3 separate regions of the Homo sapiens genome follow, and all the other regions are linked to region 2. A link means that fine-mapping ties the variant in region 2 to the expression of a gene that starts in the linked region. Tissue or cell type: whole blood. Region 2 holds a variant in brackets; each other region holds the start of a gene. All regions are shown on one strand. Distances are from middle to middle. Region 1 holds the start of C1GALT1 (core 1 synthase, glycoprotein-N-acetylgalactosamine 3-beta-galactosyltransferase 1). Region 2 overlaps C1GALT1 (core 1 synthase, glycoprotein-N-acetylgalactosamine 3-beta-galactosyltransferase 1). Region 3 holds the start of LINC03016 (long intergenic non-protein coding RNA 3016).

The links. PIP is the estimated chance that this variant, and not a neighbour inherited with it, causes the effect.
Region 1: C1GALT1 starts here. The variant in region 2 is fine-mapped to the expression of C1GALT1 in whole blood (INTERVAL, PIP 0.97).
Region 3: LINC03016 starts here. The variant in region 2 is fine-mapped to the expression of LINC03016 in whole blood (TOPMed, PIP 0.91).

Annotation. Positions count from the first base shown.
Region 1 is chr7:7,179,149-7,186,386 of GRCh38, forward strand. C1GALT1 (core 1 synthase, glycoprotein-N-acetylgalactosamine 3-beta-galactosyltransferase 1) reads left to right here and starts at 3,396. Exons shown (of 4, transcript NM_020156.5): 1 at 3,396-3,672. RefSeq lists silencers at 3,136-3,745, 3,966-4,185.
Region 2 is chr7:7,219,771-7,227,008 of GRCh38, forward strand. All of the region lies in intron 1 of C1GALT1 (core 1 synthase, glycoprotein-N-acetylgalactosamine 3-beta-galactosyltransferase 1), which reads left to right. Among named protein-coding and RNA genes, the nearest start is that of LINC03016, 32 kb to the right of the region's middle. The variant C/G (reference allele first, on the strand shown) is at 3,638.
Region 3 is chr7:7,251,567-7,258,804 of GRCh38, forward strand. LINC03016 (long intergenic non-protein coding RNA 3016) reads left to right here and starts at 3,588. Exons shown (of 4, transcript NR_108073.1): 1 at 3,588-3,612.

The DNA of each region.
Region 1 (7,238 bases), 41 kb before region 2:
CTCTGACATAACAGCTACCTGGCCCCAACAAGTAATCCTAGAGAAAGAATAAAAAGTCTGGCATGTTTTATAGTCTCCCCTCAGAAGTCACATTACATCATTTCCACTACATTCTATTCATGAGAACAAGTCATTTAATACAGTCCAAACTCAAGGTGAGGGGAATGAAGTTTGACCCTTTGAAGGAAGAAGTATCAAATAATTTGTGAACATATTTTAATACTACCATATGAGTTAATAAAATTTAATACACGAAATTTAACTTAATTATTATAAACTGGTGTTAATATATTTGTAAAATGTAGGTATTTAAAGGGAAACTAAGTCTATTAAAGAAGACAATGTTTTAATGTTGTTGCTAGCTTGTTTGCATTTTCTGTCACCATTTTCACCTCATTCTGTCTATTAAAAAATTCTATATATAGTGCTAAATAAATGATGACTTGGCCTATCTTATTATGTCAACTAAGAATTGCATTTGATACTTACAACAGACAATAACAAAATCTTATATAGAAGGGATATAATCTTCCTCACCTAACAACAAATCCAGAAGTGGATAGTCCAGACCTGGTAAGTTGGCCCTCCAAAGCAACCATGGACCTAGGCACCTCTGGTGTCCTACACTATTAATAGTGTCTGTGTGGCTTTTGTTATTATGGGTGAAATATGGCTGTTCTACCTCCAGTATCATGTCCCTGTTTCAGGTTCAAAAAAAAAAAAAAAAAAGGGATGGGTGCATATCAAATGGCTAAAGCGATATTTCTTCCATAAAGCTTTCCTTGAGTCTCCTCTACAGAAATTCACTTTTATTTAATTGATGGTCACATGGCCAGCCATGACTTATGAAAGTCTAGGGGCATGAATATTTTTAACTGGCCACATTGTCACCCTGAAGAAATCAGAGTTCTACTAGTAAAGAAGAAAGGATTTTGGTTTAGACAACTAGTAATGTCTACCGACCTACTCCAACGAGTTTTGACATGCATTATTAAACACTAGACACAAGAGAAACAACAATACTGAGGTTTATGTGTGTTTCAAGTATGTTTCAAATGGGAGAATCTGGTCAGTTTTGAGTCCCACATATAAAGTATATTTTTCAAAGTAACCACAATTTTTATTCTCTAATTGAAAATGTCGAAGAATTGGCTGACATTAATGTCACTTCTAGGAATGTGTTCAAGGAGATAATTGCACAATTGTGCAAAAGCCTATGGATAAGAATGTTCATCAGAGACTTTTTTTATGGTAGTAAAAACTTGGAAACATAAATGTCAATCAATAGAATACTGGTTGGATAAATGATGGTATATCCATTTAACAGACAGTATGCAACTTTTAAAAATGATGTTATTCATGACTGTTGTTCACTGTGCAGATAATACGATCCAATTTATGAAATATTGTATTTATATGTCTATATGTGCTTTTATTCTTAGAGAGATGCCTAGAAGAATGTAACACAAAATTTAAGAAATGGTTATCTCTATATTATGGTATTTGGACAGATTTTAACTTCTTTGCATTTTTGTTTAAATTTTTTAAATTTGTTTGCATAAGCATGTATTGTTTTTATAAAACAATAGTTATTAGCTGGGTGCCACAGCCTGTGCCTGTAATCCCAACTACTGGGGAGGCTAAGGCGGGAAGATTGCTTCAGCCTTCAGCCCAGTTATTCGAGGCTGTTGTGTGCCAAGATCACACCTGTGAATAGCCACTGCATTCCAGCCTGGGCAACATAGAAAGACCATATCTCTTCAAAAAAAAAAAAAAGCTATTTTCAAAGAAAGGCAGGGTGGGGGCAGGGCTGATTTGGTCCAGTATTGTTTCTAGCAAGTAATTTTCCAGGATAAGGCTGTGGCTGACCTTATTTTAGGAAAGGGTTCTAATCTTTGCTCAATGGAAAAAAGTGTTATTCTTTATTAATTATAACTTTTAATAAAATTAAAACGAGATAAGGAGTTGTGAGTTTTGGTTTCTATTTGGAACACTGACCCCTGAAAGAGTTCTCCTTCCATGTTTCACAATGGATGGCAAGACATTGCGGAAAGGTGGAAGGATGTTGCGGAAAGGTGGAAGGATATTGCGGAAAGGTGGAAGGATATTGCGGAAAGGTGGAGGGGGAGGAGGCTGAGCAACAACTGTATACAAGTTGGGGAGGAGTAGAGAATGGACGTAATCATGTAAGGCAGAGAAGTCTGGACCCATGAGCCAAGGAAAGAGCAATAACCTGGACATCAGGATAGCTGCACTTCTCTTCTAACATGGACCTATCAGTTTATCTTTCTGGCCTTAGTTTTGTCATCTGAAAAATGAGACATCTGTATTAGAATCACTACATGTGCTTTATGTTTCACAATTCTTTTGGATATATTGATGCAATGTCCTGAGAAACTACACTACAGCTGAACCTAAGCAAATTAAAGGAAAAATAACAATAACTAATGTATATTATTATTTGTCTCAGGCATTCTAAGTAACTTGCCAATAGGTGGAGGGACCAAGATGCCAGCCCGGGCAGTCTGATTTCAGAGCCCATACTCTTTAACAACCATGCTGTAGAGTACTAAAGAACCGCTTGGATAGGGCATTTAAAGGAAGCAGGGTAGCTTTCCTATTCTGGAACGTGGTCTTGTAGATAATGGTTAACGCCAGTAAAGACTAAACCTTACCCTCACCTCATGACTATTGTGGGGTTGCCTCAACAGGTGGCAGCCTCCTCCCCCTATTCCAAAGACAACTTCCTTATTCAGAGCCCAGCGAAAGGGGAGATAGGTTTTGTTACGCCCCTAAGAAGCTCTTCCGGCCATTGCCCCACAGAACCGAAGTGCTGACAGAACCAAAGACGAAATGTGCCTATAGAAAGCTTTCTGGTATCATTATCTCGGTTCTCAGCTCTTCCTGGTTCTCACATGATGACCCAGCACCCGTATGCATACTTCATCTTATTACTTCCTTTTATTAAGCCCAGAGAGATACTGAGTAAAGAGAGCACGGGGAGAGAACAGAAAAACAAATGAACGGGTTAAGAGCAGGCTACAGGCCACAAGAGTCCTGCAGGGTTAGAGCCTGTACCTCAGACAAAGGTCCTTCAAGCATCCCCTTTCTCGCTCCCTATTGTTACCCTGCTTTCGTCCCGCTCAAGGTCTTGAAGCTAGTGCATAACCTTACAGCAGGATCAGAAATGCGGAGAGTAGCAGACACAAGCCGCAAGGGGGATACAACAAAATCTACTGCTCGTGCAAGATCCGACTTCCCAGACCCCTTCGCATTAGGGCGGAGCGTGCACCCGGCAGCCAATCCCCGCTTCCTCACGTCGCCGTATCCCCGCCCACCGCCCCTCCCGCTCCGCCCTTCCCTGGGGCTGGTGCGGCGGCGGAGACGTCAGCGCCAGGAGACTTCGGGTGGCGGCTGCGCCATAGGCGGGCCACGGCCTGGACGCGCTGCGGGGAGGGGCGGAGCGAGCGGGCGGGAGCGCGCGCTGGGCCCGCCTTGGCCGCCGCCGCTGTGCTGCCGCTGCCGGGGAATAATCTGGGCGGCAGCGGGCGGCCTCGGCTAGCGGCCACGAGCCACTTCTGCGGCTGCCCAGAGAAGCAAAGGTCACCAGTCCCAAGTCGTCCCCCTCTCCGCCCCCCAGGAGGGGCGAGAGGGAGCCGCAGCTGATGTCAGGTATGGCCGGCGGAGGCGCCCTCAGGCTACGGGTCCAAGGTCTCGTCTCCCCTCGCCCTCCCCCCTCTCCGGGTTGGTGGGGAAGCGTGGAGGATGGAACCAAACCCCGGGCGCGGCGGAACAGGTGTCTCGGGGTCAAAGCCGGGCTGGGGTCGTCCGGGCTCCTGAGGAAGGCGCGAGGACTTCCCGCTCCCGGAGCCTTAGCGATCTGCCACAGCGTTCGGCTGCGTACCCGGCCTCAATTTTGTGGACATGTACCCTCCTCTTCGTCGTGGGTCCTTCCCTTGTGCCCGCTCGCGCCCCTCTTCTGCTCGCGCGCTGCCTGGCGGCGCGGCGGGGCGCGCAGTGCGCCCGGACCGGACCACTTAGCGGTCCTGCCCCGCCGGGCCCTCCCAGTCCCTCCTCCCGGGCCCTCCCCGCCCCGCCGCAGACCTGTGGGTCCCGCCGGACTGGGCGCCCAGGTGTTGGGCACCTTCGCCGGGGAGCCACTCGGCTGCCGCGCCGCCTGAGCGCCCAGCGAGCGGGCTCCTTCCAGAGGTGCCTGGAGCTTGCTTGGGTCTAGCTTGGATCATCAGGTTTGTCTGTAGCTGATTTATTTCTTTAAGTTTCCCTGCCGCAGAGTGAAGCAGATACGTGTGTGTTGGGGCATTCGGGGCATGGAGGAGGAAGAAAGGCATTAAATTTTTTTTTTTTGCTTCTGCACCCCATTTTTCCCCAACAAATTGTGATGGAATTAGTAGGTGTTGACAAGTTGTCCATTTGCTTTGAATTTGGGTAAGTCGTACACTCTTAAAAGATGACCATAATTTAGCGCTGTGGATTTATTCTTTCCTGGTCCTTACCGTCTCCCCACCCCCCACCACCCCGCATTTAAAGCAAACAACAGTATCAGCAACAAAAAACCCACACATCCTGGAAAAATTCTCAAGATTTCTAACCTAGTTCTCTATATCCATTGTACATACTACTGTATTTCCTTTTAACGCTTTTTTAAGATAGAAAACTATTGTGCTAACCATGGATTGATTTCATTATGAATTTAAAAGTTATAAATTTAGAACCATAATGAATCAATGAATAATTGGCCGATGTGTAAGGGAGAGAAATATGTTAACTTACTAAAAGTTGGGCATAGAACATAGCTCTGCCAGGAAAAAGTGCGCATAATTTCAAGTTGCTTCATTCTGGTGTGAGTTTGGGAAGTTGGAATCCGAGTTTTTAGAAGGTATTTAGATGACAGCTTTTCACCCTCTTAGGTAAATGGCAGTTGAGCTTAATGCCCATGATGCTGTATGTTCTAAATATTGTATATAGTACACTATACTTTCTACCAGTCTTTATATATAGATGTACAGTTTAAGTGAATATAAAGTTTCAAGTTAGCAAACAGTTAACTCTTCACCTTATGGTAAGTGAAACAATGACTTAGTAAGGAAAGTATGACTCATTTAAAATTCTTCATAAAGAGAATAATTTTTCAGTATTAGTGGAGAGCTACTAAATGCCTCTCAAATTTGCCTGGAATGTGTATTTTTTTGTATCTTCCTACTTAGGATTAAGCATTTTAGAAATATTTTGTGTTTCCTATTTAAAGTTTTTCATAATTATGCTTTTTAAGACTAGACTACGTTGAGTAAATTCAATATCCAGTTATTCTTAAAATTGTATCACAAATTTATTTCAGGGTACACATAATGAGTTCTTGTTTACCTAATAGAAATATGAAAAAGTATGTCACTAGGCACATGCTACTATTTGTGTATTGATTTGTGCTAAAATTAAAATTGCATTATGCAGTTTAACATTATAAGCCATGGTAATTTAGAGTCTTTGTGTGGTAAAATCATTGATTGGAATTTTTGTGACAGTGCAGCTATAAATAAACCTTAAGTAGAAAATGGAAAGCTTGATGCTGAAATTAAATTCAGATAGGCTTAAAAGTTTAAGCTTCCCAATACAACCATCTTTTCTTTTAGAAGATTTCTTAAGATTTGATTAAAGACGCTGATGTACAAACTATAGCAAGGCTGAAAGAAAGGTATGACAAAAATCTTTTTACTTCAAATTCAGTGGGATTAAGTCATTCTTTTAAAAGAAGAAAGGTGGGGAGCGGGAAGGAGACTTGTTCCATAAAATGAGAAGTTAGCCTTTTATCTTAAAATCTGGTTAGAGAGGAACTCCAATGTGTACTTAAATTATTTTGCAGCTAATTCAAATGTCCAAGGGGAATATATATGCCAAAATCTGTAATATGTGAGAATAGGAAGAGGGAGAAAAAAAATATATAAAGAAACTGGTGTTTGTGATTTAGGGAAGCACATAAGAAGGTGGGGGAAACTGAAAGGAAAGTCTAAATAAATTATCTAGCACCTGTAGTATGTGCTGCCTTGCACATTGAAGGGGCGTGTTGGGGGCAACGAGAGGCAATATTAGGGAGATTCTGGAATGGGAAACCTGTATATTAAAGCACATTTAAACGGCTAGATGTTGGATAATAGGCAGAATTTGAAATTAAATACAGCTTGGCATAGTTATTTGCATTCTTGGTCATTGTATTTTCTAGGGCTGCGGTAACAAAATACGACAAACTGGGTGATTTAAAACAACAGATTTATTGTCTCAGTTCTGGAGGCAAGATGTCTGAAATCAAGATGTAGGTATGGCCATGCTCTCTCAAGGTTCGAGGGGAGAATCTGTTCCATGCCTCTTAGCTTGTTGTGTTACTGCCAATCCTTAGCATTTTTTGGCTTGCAGCTATGTCACTCCAGTCTGTGACTCTGTTATCACAACATAATCCCTGTGTGGCTCTGTCTTCAGATGGTGTGCTCCACTTCTTGCAAGGATACTAGTCGTATTGGATTAAGATCCACCCTAATCACCTCATCTTAACTTGATTACATCTGCAAAGACCCTATTTTGAAATAAGGTCACGTGCAGAGGTACTGGAATTAGGACTTCAACCTATCTTTTGTGGGGACACAGTTTAACCTGTAACAGTTGCACGGTTTATCTTTTACATCGTTCAGTAAATGTTTAGCATTATAGACTGAATCAGAGGCTATAGTGGAAACAGGATGGGACACTTACATTTATTTACATATATCAGTGATGTCTTAATCTGTTTTCTGTTGCCTCTAGCAGAATATCTGAAACTGGATAATCTATAAAGAAAAGAAATTTATTCCTTACAGTTAGGAAGGCTGAAAAGTCCTGGTTCAGGGGGCCACATCTGGTGAGGGCATTTGCTGGTAGGGACTCTGCAGAGTCCTGAGGATAGCACAGGGCACCACATGGTGAGGGGGCCGAGCATGCTAGCCCAGAACTCTTTCTTTCTTTCTTTCTTTCTTGTAAAGCTACCAGTTCCTTTCCCATGATAACCCATTCATGAGGGCTGAACCCTTAGTACCCAGTCACCATTTAAAGACTCCAGCTCTCAATACTGCCACAGTGGTGATTAAGGTTCAACATGAGTTTTGGAGGAGACAAACATTCAGACCACAGCAAGTGCTTACTATGTGCCAGGTCCTGGAGATAAAACAGTGGATAGGCAAAAATCTCTGTCCTCA
Region 2 (7,238 bases):
TAGTATCACTTTTTTTAAGCACATAATTGTAATAACATTGTCTATAAAATTTTGTGTGGAATTGTATATGAAATTGTTGTATATAAAATATTTGTGTTCACTTATGTTCTAATATGTTTTCATAATAAAATGTAATCTTCAACAATTTAGCAGTTGTATAATCTACTTAGTGGGTATATCTTAATTTACATAATTTTACCTTGTATTGATTCTGATTTGGGATATTAAATCTTTTTCATTTAGCACATCCTTGGAAGCTTATTATGTACAGGCACTGCTCATGAATGCTTTTTATTTTTTATTAAGATTTTCTTAGATTAAGAGTTGAGTGGCTGAGTAAAAAGAGGGGAATGTGCTAAAGAGAATCTTGTCTTTTGAGTTTTTTGTAGTAGCAGGCCATATAGCAAGCAATTAAAATTAATAGGAATTTACACAACTCTGTTAGCCAGCATAGGGTTGTGGAAAGTTATGGTAAATTAATTTAAAGCACTTAGAAGAATATCCTTTTCAATGAATAATTACTCAGTGTTAGCTATTTTTATTTGCTATATTATATTTTAGAGTTGAGTGTTCTTTTTAATTTGTAATTCAAATATACAGGTGACCAATTCTGAAACTTCTCCCAGTCCCCAGACCTGTATCTCCAACAGCTTGCTCAACATTTCTACATCAGTGTCCTACTGGTGCTTTAAAATATGGTATATGCTGAGCATTGATCTAAACAAAATCTGTCATGTCTTTAAAGTATCTTTATTCTTTTTTTTTTGAGACGGAGTCTCACTCTGTCGCCAGGCTGGAGTGCAGTGGTGTGATCTCGGCTCACTGCAACCAAGCTCCACCTCCTGGGTTCAAGAGATTCTTCTGCCTCAGCCTCCCAAATAGCTGGGACTACAGGCATGTGCCACCACGCCCAGCTGATTTTTGTATTTTTAGTAGAGATGGGGTTTCACCATGTTGGCCAGGATGGTCTTGATCTCTTGACCTTGTGATCTGCTGGCCTCGGCCTCCCAAAGTGCTGGGATTACAGGTGCGCCCAGCCCAAAAGTATCTTTATTCTTCCCTCACACTTGTTGCATAGTTTGAGTATAAAATTCTAGGTTGAAAATTATTTTTCCTCAGAATTTCAAAGGATTTTCTCCACTGCTTTTTAGCTTTCAATGTTGTGCAAGTCCAGAACCACTTACTTTCTGGTCTCTTGTATGTGACCTTTTGTTCCTCTCTCTGAAAGTTTGCAGGATGGCTTTGACCCACGCGTCCTGAGGTTTCATGATATGTCTTTATGGGTCTGTTTTTATTTACTGTGCTGGGTATCATTGGATCCTTTCAGTGTGAAAATGAAAATGTCTTTGAAATATTGAGTTAATGATTTCCTCTTCTCTTTTATCTGGACCTCTAAAGTGATCTTTAGTTTTCACAGTTTTTTTTCTTATTTTCCATCACCTCGTCTTTCTTGTCTTTTAACTTTGCTTACTTTCAGGGAGATTTCTTTATCTGATTTACAGCTGTTCTATTTGAGGTTTTCAATTTTCTTACATTTTAATTTTTAGGAGTCTTTTGTCTTCTGATTTTTAAAAACTGATACCTTGTTCTTCATGAATGCAATGGCATGGTATCTTTTCTCTCTCAAGATATTAATGGTGGTATGTTGTTTGTTTTTAAGTTTTCATCTCATTGCATAATCTCTACCAAATTCATTTAAATGTGACTGTTTGTCTTTTTCTTTCTTATCAGAGCCATTCCTTAAAATGTCTGGTGATTGATAACTGGTGTTGGTAATTTAGACTAGCTAATAAAAAGCGAATTGAAATGTCTGTACAAGTTGTTGGGACTAATCACCAGTGGTTTTTAACTGTAGGATGATCCCACTGGAGTGATATATTGCTCAACCTCTTAGGAATTCCATAATGCAAATCCAAACAAAGTGGTTTTTAACTTTCTGTATCCAAAACTTAAACTGTAGCAGATGATGCCAGTGCTCTCTCCATAGGCCTGTGTTTCCTTCCTGCTGTCAGACTCCTAGTGTCTGTTGATTCTCAACATCTAGCTCCTAAGGCTTGTTGCAAGGCCACCCTCACCATGCCAGAGCCTGTTTTGCCAATGTACATGCCGTGGAAGTGTCTGGAAAATTTGCTTCCTGAAGACAGCCCTTAACCAATGACTAATGATATGAGTAAACTCTGAGGTGTGACCTACGTTAACACCAGAACTACCCTGAGGGACTGAGCTAAAATTACCCTCTATGGGACCTTCCTTGGTGTCTTACCCTTGCTTAGCTTCCTTCCCTTCCTGTCCTGTTTCCCTACAAGGTTTTCCATAGAATACTTTCTAATAAATCACTTTGACACAAGCACCTCATCTTAGAGCTTACTGCCAAAAGACCCAACTTAACGATAACTACTACTAATTGCTCAGCATTCTCTTTAATTGGAGTGAAATCAGACTGAAGTTTTCTATGCTGTTCTTTGGGTTCTGTTTGTCAGATAATGTCATCAAACTTTTATATTAAAGAATAATTGGTTAATTTCTGCTCCTTAATTTTCTGGAATGATTTATGTAGTCCAAAAATTATTTTTTTAAAGATTGAGAGACTTCGTCCAGGAAAGTCTGGACCTTTTTGAAGTCTGGCTCTTTGACAACATTTTATTTTTTCTATGGTTGTCTATTAGGTTGTGTATCTTGAGTCAGATTTGATAATTAGCTTTCTTTTAAATAGAAATGTGTGTTTCATTGAGGTTTTTATGTTTAATAGCTATTATACAAAGTGTTATTTTTTCATTTTTTCTGTGAACATGAATACTATTTGAATTCTGATTTGAACAAACCAACTGCGAAAAGACATTTTTGTGCTAATTGAGACAGTTTGATTACAGAAGACAGTTGTGGAAATTTGATTACAGACTGTGGGTTAGATGATTCCAAATAATTATTGCTATTTTGTTAGGCATTTAGTAATGGCGTTATAGTTTTTAAGAAAATGTTGATATTTTCGGACAGGTATACAGAAGTATGTAGAAATGAGATGACTTTATGTCTAAGATTTGCATTAAAATACTATAATCATTTGAAGAAAGAATAAAGTAAATATGCCAAATTTTGTATTATAATTCAATCTGTATGACAGGTATGTGAGTTTTTTTTTGGTTTTATGCTTGTGTGAAGATTTTTGTAGTTAAGCTTTTTTTAAAAAAAAGTCAACTGAGTTACTTACGTGATGAAATTAGAACACATACTTCTTACAAGCACATTCTCTCCTATCCCCCTCTCCATTTCAGTTGGCACCATAATGCCATTTTTGCCTAACCATAACATAAATTAATATCATTTTATTTTATGGAGTTTTTCTTTCTGGGATAATAACATTTCTGCTTTGTTGCATAATTATCACAGACAGGTTTTTCTTTTTTTGGAGATGGAGTCTTGCTCTGTCACCCAGGCTGGAGTACAGTGGCGCGATCTTGGCTCACTGCAACCTCTGCCTCCCAGGTTCAAGCAATTCTCCTGCTTCAACCTCCCCAGTAGCTGGGATCACAGGCACCTGCCATCAAGCCCAGCTAATTTTTAAAAATATTTTTAGTAGAGATGGGGTTTCTCCATGTTGGCCAGTCTGGTTTGGAACTCCTGACCTCAAGAGATTCTC[C/G]CACCTCAGCCTCCGAAAGTGCTAGGATTACAGGTGTGAACCACAGTGCCTGGCCACACACAGGTTCTTTAGTTTTATATGGGAAGAGATTGCATGTCTTTTGCCAAGCCTTTCATTGTATGATTTCTCCATTTGTGAGTTTTATGGGTTTCGTTTTTGTTTTTGTTTGTTTTTTATTATTTTGGCATGTGTATCTTATATCCTGTGACCTTGCTGAATTTACTCTTTGTAGCATTTTTCTTTTCACAAAATCCTTGAGATTTCCTTCACAGTCACATTATCTACAAATCTGCAAATAGGGATGGTTTCATTTTTTCCATTACAATCTATATGCCTTTTCATTCTCTTTTTTATTTTTCTCCTTTATTATACTGGCTAGAATTTCCAGTACTATATTGAGTAAGAGTGATGAGAGTGGACATCCTTTCCTTGTTCATGATCTTAACGTGAAAACATTCAGTCTTTTACCATTAAGTGTACCATTAGCTGTTAGTTTTTGATACTTGTTCTTTATCAAGTTAAGGAAATTCCTTCTGTTTTTGTTTTTCTGAGAGTTATTTGTCCTGAATATTGGATTTTGTCAAGTATTTTTTCTGCATCTTTTCATTTGTGTGAATTTTCCTTTTTAGTTGGTTAATAGGATGAATCGTGTTGATTTTTAAATGTTGAACCATCCTTACATACTCAGAATAAACTCTACTTGGTCATAATTCTTTTTACATAATGCTGAATTCTATTTACTAATACTTTGTGAAATACTAATACTTCATTAAGTATTAGTACTTAACATGCTAATTCATACTTTTAAGTATTTTTGTTTCTGTATTTCTGAGAAGGGTAGTAGTCTGTAGTTTTTTTTGGTTTTTTTTTTGTACTGTCTTTGTTGGATTTTGGTATCAGGGTAATATGAACTTGATAAAATGAATTGGGAAGTGTTCTCTCCTACTTTTTGGAGGAGATTGTACAAATTGATGTTAAAACATTAAAAAATAATTTTTAGAACATCTGTTAGAATTCTCCAGTAAAACCATCTGGACCTGGAGATTTTTGTGGGGGTCAGGGGCGGGGGGTGAGGGGAGTTTTAAAATTGTGAGTTCAGTTTCTATAAATAATTATATGGCTGTTCAAATAATCTATTTCATATTGAGTGAATTGTGATGGTTTATGCTTTTCAAGGAATTGGTCCATTTCATCTAACTTGTCAAATTTATACGTGTAGAGTTGTTTGTAGTATTCCCTTATTATCCTTTGGTATCTGCAGGGTCAATAGAAATAACCCCTGTATTATTCCTGCTATTGGTAGTTTGTGTCTCAATCTTTAGAGGCTGTCCATTTTATTAATCTTATCAAAGAACCAGCTCTTTTTTTTACATTTTAGGTTCAGGGGTACATATACAGGTTTGTTACAGAGGTGAATTGTGTGTCATGGGGGTTTGGTGTATTTAAGCATAGTGTATTTAAGTGTATTAAGTGTATTTAAGTGTATTAAGCGTATTTAAGTGTATTAAGCATAGTGTATTTAACCAATAGATAGTTTTTCAGTCCTCACCCTCTTCCCTCCCTCCAGTCTTAGGTAGTTTCTGGTGTCTGTTATTCCCTTCTTTGTGTCCATATGTCCTCTGTGTTTAGTTACAAGTGAGAACTAATAAGGTTTTCTGTCCTGTGTTAGTTCACTTAAAATAATGCCTGTTTTAAATTTTATTAATTTCTGCTCTTTATTATTTTATTCCTTCTTGCTTTGGGTTTATTGTGCTCTTTTTGTTGAGTCTTGAGGTAGAAGCTTAAATAATCAATTTATTTCTCTCTTTTTTAATGTAAACAGTTAGTGCTATAAGTTTTCCTCTTAGCACTGCTTTTGCTGTGCCGCTCTATTGTTTCCAAACTGTTTCTTTGCTATTTTTACTTCCCTGTGTCATTAGCAAAACTAAACTCCAGGAAAGCAGGGAAAGGTACTTGCTTTTTGCTTTTCCCAGTATATAGCATAGTGCTGTGTATTTGAAAATAATTTTTGAGCTTTAAAACTTAGATCTCAGCTTGGCAGCTTACATCTGCTTATAACCAGGAACTGGAAGAAACACAATACAAATATTCCCTAAAATTAGAAGAAAACTATAGAGGGTTTATTGCAAGTAAAATTCTACTTAATAAATTTATTTTTGTTTGTTGAAAAGCATATGGAAAACACTGTATGGGTTAAGTCTTTAGCAGTGTGTTTTTTGTGTTTAAGAATTTATATAGAGAAACATTTGAGTTTTTTAATGGCAAAATTAAAGAGCAGAGGCATGAATATTTAGTCTGAAACCAGTTCCAATCTCTCAGCAAACATTAACATCCTCCCAGTCCATTCTTAGAGCCCGTGGACTTTTCAATATCTTATTTGCACCTCAAGATTTATAAATAGAGCAAAAGCGGTTTCTTGTTGGACCTACTGATGACATAACCTTTTAAGTATTCCATTTAAAGATAATTTTAGAGAGAAAGGGAAAGGATATGGAAAGTTAATAGACAGCTATAGGTGCGAGAGTGGTGTGTGGAAAAACTAGTGAACTTTAAATGAAATGGGGGTGAAAATTCCAATTTACCATGTTGGCTGGCTGGTTTGGGTCCATTTAATTAACCTGTCTCATACTCAGTTTCTTCATCTGTAATATGAAAGGGATACTGCTATCGAGTTTTCAGGTTGCTGTGAGCATCAGAAAAAAACATAAAAATTTCTAACATGGTACCTCACATGTACTATATTTGTAAATGTAAGGTGTGTGACTGTAAGATTTATATCACTTTCATAAGGAAAATCTTTTGGGAAAATATAAAGATGTATCAAAAATTATTTTAATATGGTTAGAAGAGGGAATATATTTTGAATACATAAATGCAGCAAATGAATGCCATAATCCAGAGCAAAATTAGAAGTACCTGATTGTCACCTTGGCAAAATGTGGTATAAAGTGTTAAAATTTAAAAAAAAAAATAACTAGAATTTCAGGGCTTTATTGTGAATTACACTCACTGACTTCCCGAAAGCCTGAAAGGAAGAAGACGTGCGCTCATGGTAAAGGGCATTAAAATCTTGGTGAAAGAATATTCTTGAACTGGTGGAGTGGCTGAAAACCAAGCATAAGAGAAGAGGTTAAAGGCTGTATCCTCAGAATTCTCTGGCACCCATGTAAGAAGACCATGGAGTAATATTTACAAAGTTCTTAGGGAGAAGAAAGTTTGTGCAATAGCAGACATTCTGAAGCCTGCAAGAATTTCAGATGTGGCACCGATTAGCGCCATTAAAAAAAACTGCTTGCTGAAACCCAGCTAACAAAAACATGATATTAATGAAAAACTCAAATTTAGAGGAGTTGTGATTAAAAAGGACTCTTGTTGAGCATGGAATCTAGTTTAATGTAGATCCAGGATTAAGCAGTCATGGAATTACAGTTCATAATTCATATAATGTAAACTATGTACATTTTTACCAAATAAAAGCAGTTAACAAAAATTGGTTGTGGCAGAGGGAGTGTGTGTGTATGTATATGTGTATATATATATTTGTACATGTGTGTATCCATGCTGATTTCCACATTTCACAGCAAGAAATCAATAGATAGTG
Region 3 (7,238 bases), 32 kb after region 2:
AATTGCTATTCCTTACCTAAACGCCAGACAATTTAGCTCCAAATCATTTAACCAACATTTGAGTGCCTACTAAAAGTATTGAGCTAGATAATAGGGATAAAGTGGCAAATTATATTTGTTGCTGTCAAGGAACTCACCTTCTATTAGAAGCAAAGTACCCAAAAAAGTAGTTGTGTGCAGTAGAGTTATACTCTCAGGCAGTGTGCTAATTGTTTTACATTGCATTATCCCATGTAATTCTTACTACAATCCTGGTGGATGGATTATACTATCCACTGTTTCAGGCTTCTACTGGGGATCTTGGTATGTATCCCCCCGTGGTTAAGGGGGAACTACTGTATTTTGTTAACCTCCAGCACTTTACACAAAAGGGGAACTGAAAGTACCAGATGCTACATAGAAGAAAGAATGGAGTGTGTGAAGCAAGAGACTCTTCTCGAAAGGGGCCAATTTAAATCATTTCATTTCCATATGCAGCCATAACCATGTAAAAACTTCCATCCACATCATTCAATGGCTTTTATACTCTTAATTCATATTGCTAAGAAAACTTCTGGCTTATTCTTCTTGTTAAAGTTTATGAAGTGTCCTGATATGGAGGGGGGAAAATGCCATTTCTATGACATAAGCCCATTAACCCACCCAAGTTGTCAGAATCAAGAGGAGGTGTTTGAGAAATTGTTTCCTCTTTTTAAACATTTAACATTTTTCTTTTGTGTTAGTTTTTCTTCAAAACGTACAAAAAAGTACGCATCATTGTATCTTGTGTATTTACTACCAGCTTTTACTAGATAAGTCATCTTTCCATTGAAAAAGTGATAAGCTCCATTATTTTAAAAAAAACTTAAACATTCATTGCAGATGACCATTTCAAAGATGAAAATTTTTAAAGGACCCCAAACCCCACCACCCCCCAAAGTAATTCCAATTAATGCATAAATATAAATTGGATAGGAAGCTAAATAGATAGAAATGGTTTTATTAAAGTGAGATCGTGTAACAAATGCTAATTTTAACATTATAATTTCAAAAAAATACAGTTGCTCTTGATGTGGCCAAAATCTGCAAATTGTCCTGGGGGCAGGGAGAGGGGAATGTCATCTTAGCAGCAACAAAATTGAGTGATTTCTTTGGGAGGGGGAGATGGAGAGAGGAAGAACGGACTGGACTTAGGCTTCTCTGTAGCAACATTCAGTGCTAAAGCAGAGTGAAGCAAACTCTACCAGATTCTTGGGGGAGGAAGAAGCCAAGTGATTTCAAATGGAAGGGTAAATTGAAAGAGTGAGGGTGGACACTTCTTGAAAAATCTAGATGATGAAGCCCATCTAAAGAGATAAATGGACAAACATTGAGAACAGGACTGGTGGTGGTTAATTATTTAACTATGTAGCTATAGAATTATTTAAATAAGGCTATGGAAGCATATTGAAATGTTATAAATCTTGATATAGAAAAGATGATTAACAAGTTAGAAAATAGAATATCAAAGACGAGGTAATATATACATGCCCTAATTGGTTTTACTTTTCAGAATAGAAATTTTGTAAAATTGATAATATATCAAGAAATAGGGATGTAATATTCTGAATAGTTATGAAGGTAATCACCAAAACTGTAAGCCTGATAACTATTAAAATGAAAACACAAAATTAAAGATAACACAGGCCATATAAGAGAGCTAAAGGGAGAATTTACAATAGATGACAGAATTAAGACCAAACATAGATATGATGTCAAATAAGGAAAAATATGATTTAACTTATAAATGTATGAATATACAAAAACTGTTGGCAGTACCTTTGGGGAAGGGTACTAGGATTGGAAAGAAATTCAATAATTCACTGTTTTCCTTTTTGAACTTTTAAAAAATCATGTTTATACTGTCACAGTTTAGAGAAGTAAAGTGGGAAAAAAAAGCTGTTGGCCCTGGCTCCCTAGGGTTTTTACAACCAGTGGTGAAGAATGTCCACAGACATTCTTAAGCAGCAGTAGAGGTAAGCAGGTACACACATGAGCTGGAAAGATCTCAAAGCTGATTTGGATTCTTTTATCTTGCCATAAGAAATTACTTTCTTCAATCAAGGGTATAAAGACTGCTGAACTAGTTCATAATGAGGGTAGATGAAGGAGGTATCCATCTTCAAGAGTGGTAAATAGTTGACCCATACAAAGGACCAGCAGCCTCATGTGGACCCGTCTTAGCATCCTTCTCTCCTTCTACTCCAAGGGTGAAGAGTACTCGGAAGTTACTATTTATTCTCAAATCCTTGTGTCAGATTATTTTCATATCTTTCTTAGATCTGTTCTGGCTTAAGTCTTATTCTCTTATTCATGGAAATAGAAGACACTGAGCCCTTTCCCACATAAAAATATAGGACTACTGATTTCTAGAGCTTAAAGATGTTCTAACGCCTCGTTTGAAAGATTCAGAAACAGATCTAGAGATGTTAAAGTTTAGAAAAATGACACAAATAATGCCAGAAGTGGCAACAGAACTCAATTTTCCTGACTCCCAGGTTAGTGGTCTTTGTACTAAATGCAATTTCTTATCTTCCCTGAACAACCTGAGCTATGTACTTTAACAAAATTTTTTGTGGGTACATAGTAGGTGTACGTATTTATAGGGTTCATGAGACACTTTGATACAGCCATGCAACAAGTAATAATCACATCATAGAAAATGGAGTATCCATCCCCTCAAATATTTATCCTTTGTGTTACAAACAATCCAATTATACTCTTTTAGTTATTTTTAAATACACAATTAAATTATTGACTATAGTCACCCTATTGTGCTATCAAATACTAGATCTTATTCATTCTTTCTGTTTTTCTTTGACCCATTGTACTGCTAGATAGAACTCACATATTTGGTCCCTGCCTTTTCCCACCATTTGCAAATAGATTCTAGGAACGATCCTAATAGTTGCCAGGCACTGTTATCAGAGATCAAATCTGTCTTGTTTCCAATTGTGCCTGGGACATAATAGGATTTTTTTTTTTAAATAACAAAGCCATGTGTAGTGCTGCATGCCTGTTGTCCTAGCTACCCAGAAGGCTGAAGCTCAGGAGTTCAAGTCCACCCTGGGCAACAAGACTCCATCTCCACAACAAAAAAGTTTAAAAAGGTTACTATACGATTACTATACATTGTATGTATCAAAATATTACTCTCTCCCCCATAAATATGTACATTATATATCAATTAAAAGGAAGTAAATGGTGAGCATCCTTTCACTATGAAGAAAAGTTCTCCATATGCCCCCTACTTTCTTCTGTTTCATTTTTATGGAGACCTCTAAACAAAATGCTTTTCTCATAGATATGGAGGGACTCCTAAACAGGTTTTCTGCTTGAGAAAATCTTGATTTGAACTCCACGTATCATACACCATCAGGCAAAAAACCTCGCATTTACGTTGGAGAATACAGTCCAGAAAAAGAACAAAACCTCAAGTGTGGGCAGAAGATTGTGTGTATTTGCTATTAGGGAGGAGAGCTCAGGTTCCTTTTCTCTACAGTGACCATTAGACATTCCAAAGCACTGTCACTTGGTGTAGCTCAGTGCTCTTGGTTACTGAAGCAACAAGTGATCTCTGATGACAAAACAAAGGTAGGGTCGTGCCTAACACTGGTAAGGAGAAAACTGTGTCGAGTTAGTTAATAATTAATTTACATGTCAAGTTACAAGTTTTCTATCCTAAAATCCAAAAAAAGCAACAGCTCTTTTTTTTCCTCCAGTCATTAAATCACCCATTCAACAAACTTTCACCAGGCTCATGGTTTGTCAGCTATAGAAGAGAAAGGAGGGCGAAACCTGTGGTTAAGGCTTGCCTGAAGGATCTCACATTTGGGTTGGGGGCTGACATGCCAGTGAACAAATAGCCTCCTCAGGACTATGATAGAGGTATTTACAAAGAACTATAAGAGGACTGTATATTAAGTGTTTAGGGATCTGAGAAGTTTCAAAGAAATTGTGGCATTTGAACTGGATTTAAAGAATAAGGCTCAGGTACAACTTCATGTGAAAGAGTCGATATATTCACAAATTTGCCAAAGCCCAGTTAACTTCAATTCTTCGAGAGTTCCAGTTTTTTCCCAGGTGCAGTCAGTGTACCATTTTTTTCTGAGACCCACAGCCATTTTCTTTCATTGGCATGTTTTTAGGTTTATTTTTCAATAACTCCAGTACCCCTGAAATTTCCTTCCTTAGATCTTGAATAAATATATTCAAGTTGGGCATTACTGCATGGTTTGAGGATAATGTCTTTCCTGTTAAAAATATTTTTAAGTTTTTATACAAAGGTAATGTATGTGCTTGGTAAAAGAGAATGAATATAAAATGAAAAGCTATAATCTGCTACAGCCCCACCCAGCAGTCCCTTTGTCCAGCCATAAACAGAAAATAACAGAACTGTACTCATTTCCAAACTAAACACATCATTCTGCTCCTTGCCTTTTCTGCTTACTGTTTAATAACTTAGAGATAATTCTTTTTAATAGTTAACTAGATCTCTGTATGGATGTGCCACAATTTTTAAGCCATTCCTCTATTGATAATTGAGTTGGATACTTTTATTATAATTATTGCTGCACTGAACATCCTTGAAATGATTGTGTGGGTACAGCCATAGGATAAGTTCCTAGCAAGTAATTGCTGAGATAAAGAATGTATGCATTTAAATATTCATAGATACTGCCAAATTGCCTTCTTAAACTGTACTGTACTACCTTATACTACTACTCAACATTTGCGAGTATATTTTCCTGCCCCTTTTACCAAAGTTTTTGATTATTGAACTTACTAGTTTTATCACTGCATTAATATCTGATAATTGTTGATTTGTACTTAAGGTTTGAGTTTTTTTTATACATTGGTAATTTGCATTTCATCTTCGCCAGTTTTTAATATTGAATTACTAGGGTTTTTAAAAATTTTTATAAACTCTCTGAATATTGGTTTATTTATATGTATTAGAACTGTTATGATTATTTCGTACTTGTTTTTTCCCCACACAAACCAATTAATCTTTTCTTAGGGCTATTGAATTGTGTGTCTTGCTCACACCAAGGTTTATTTATAATATGCTTATGTTTTCCTCTTACTTTCATAGTTTCATTTTTTGTGTTTATATTTTTGATCCCTCCAGAATTTATTTTCTTATATGGAGTGAGGTAGGAAAATGGCTACCCGTTTGTTGTAATACACTTTATTTGACGATCCTTTCTTTCAACATTTATTTTAAATCACCATTACCCCATGATATTTCATTATCGGTTTGTGTATAAACTGTATTCTGGTCTGCTTATCTGCCTATTTCTTGTGCAGTACATTGTTTTAATGATTTCAGATTCATAACACTTAATAACTGACAGAATGAATTACCTACTTAAACATTTCGTACAGACACTGTGGTGGATTCTGCTACATATCATGGCATTATGCCATGAATGCTTTCCAGCATTACTGGCAGAAATAGCCACCCTTAAAATATGCCCCTCGTGATCCTCAGCGGTTCCCAGGGTACAGTGTAATGTGTACCCAGAAATGGGTTGCCCTCTTGCCCATTCCTGGGCTGCCTCCTAGGGACAGTGACTCCAGTTAACTTGCTGCTTCAGTGGGCACTACCATCTTCTGCTGGTGACTTCTGTCATCTTGTTTGACCCTGGGGAAAAGACTTATTTTCCTCTTTGTTGCCCACAGTAGAGACCAGACTTTCCTGACCGTTCCAGAATAATGAAAGAAAGGGTCCAGATAGTACTTTATGAGAGCGGCCAAGCTCCAGTGGAATCCTCTCCACCCTTACCAGGCTACTGCTCTGCCCTCTTTGCTACCTGTTTCCAGGTCACCAAAGGTAGTTCAGCTACCCCACTAGAAACCTTCAGTTATCAGCACTTCTTTAGAATTGGAGCCAAATTGACATCTGCACTAAAAGAAATGAGGAAGGTTTCCACTCACCTAACACTCTGGACACCCTCCTCCCAAAATTCCTGCTGAACCAACCTCTCCCCTGGGAAACTGGCAGTGAAAACATTTAGTCTTTTCAGAGGAAATTACACCTTTACTCAGAGAAACGTGGTCTGGATTTTGGATCTGCAGCCCCAGTAAGAGAATTGCCTAATGATCTGGTATCAGTTAGTACAATCAGGCCCTTCATATCTGTGGGTTCCACATCCATGAATTCAGCCAATCGTGGATCAAAAATATTCAATAAAAAATAATATGACAAAAATATAAACAATACAGTATAACTGTTATTTCCATAGCATTCGTATTAGGTATTATAGAGATGATTTAAAGTATGCAAGAGGATAAGCATAGGTTATATGCAAATACTATACCATTTTATATAAGAGATTTAAACATCCATGGGTTTTGGTATCAGAGGGGGTCCTGGAACCAGTACCCCAAGGATACTGAGGGACGACTGTCTATTTCGCAGTCTGTATTGTTTTTACAAGTGGGGCAGCAACAACCAAACCCAAATGAGGCCGCATCAGGCTCAGCCCTGTTCCTATTTTGTCTCCCTGCACTAAGGGTTTCAAGCATGTCTTAGGGCTGTGGTCAGCTTGTTAACACAAATCAGCCTTGAAACCTAACAGAATGTTACTTTACAATTTCCTGTTACTATGTTCCTTTTTAAAGTAAGCTACTTCCAAATCGATCTTCATCCTTTTCAAAATACCAAATTTCGGAAATGGAAGGGGGAAAGGAATGGGGGAAATACAAAGTGAAATCACCTGTATTTTCTTAGGGACCCTAACTTAGACATGACCAGCTATTTCTGAGATTCTTAAGTAAACTGTTTTTTCTCTCTGAAAGTCTGACAGTCTCTGCCATGTCAAGCTCTTTATTTCATGTCTTATACTTAGACCCACTCAGGCTACTTGGACAAATGCTCAAATAAGTTGACCAAATGAAAAACGTGTTCAGAGGTTGAGTGACTCAGAGTGAGAACAAGTGAAGCAGAACTGAGTGGTGGAACTTAACCTGCGCCTGAAGTTTTGAAACACATCAAGTCTAGTCTTCTGTATTTTAATAATATACAGACTTAGAGGGTGGAAAGAGATAAAGTGTTATGTGCTCATAAAATCAATTTATAAGTGACCTCATAGGGTCAATCACCTCAAGATAATATAAATTCATGATTTAATATATTAATGTAACCTTTGCTATGTATTAATCAGTATAAATTTATAATTCAGTAGTCTACAAATCCTAAACTTAGAGAATATTTT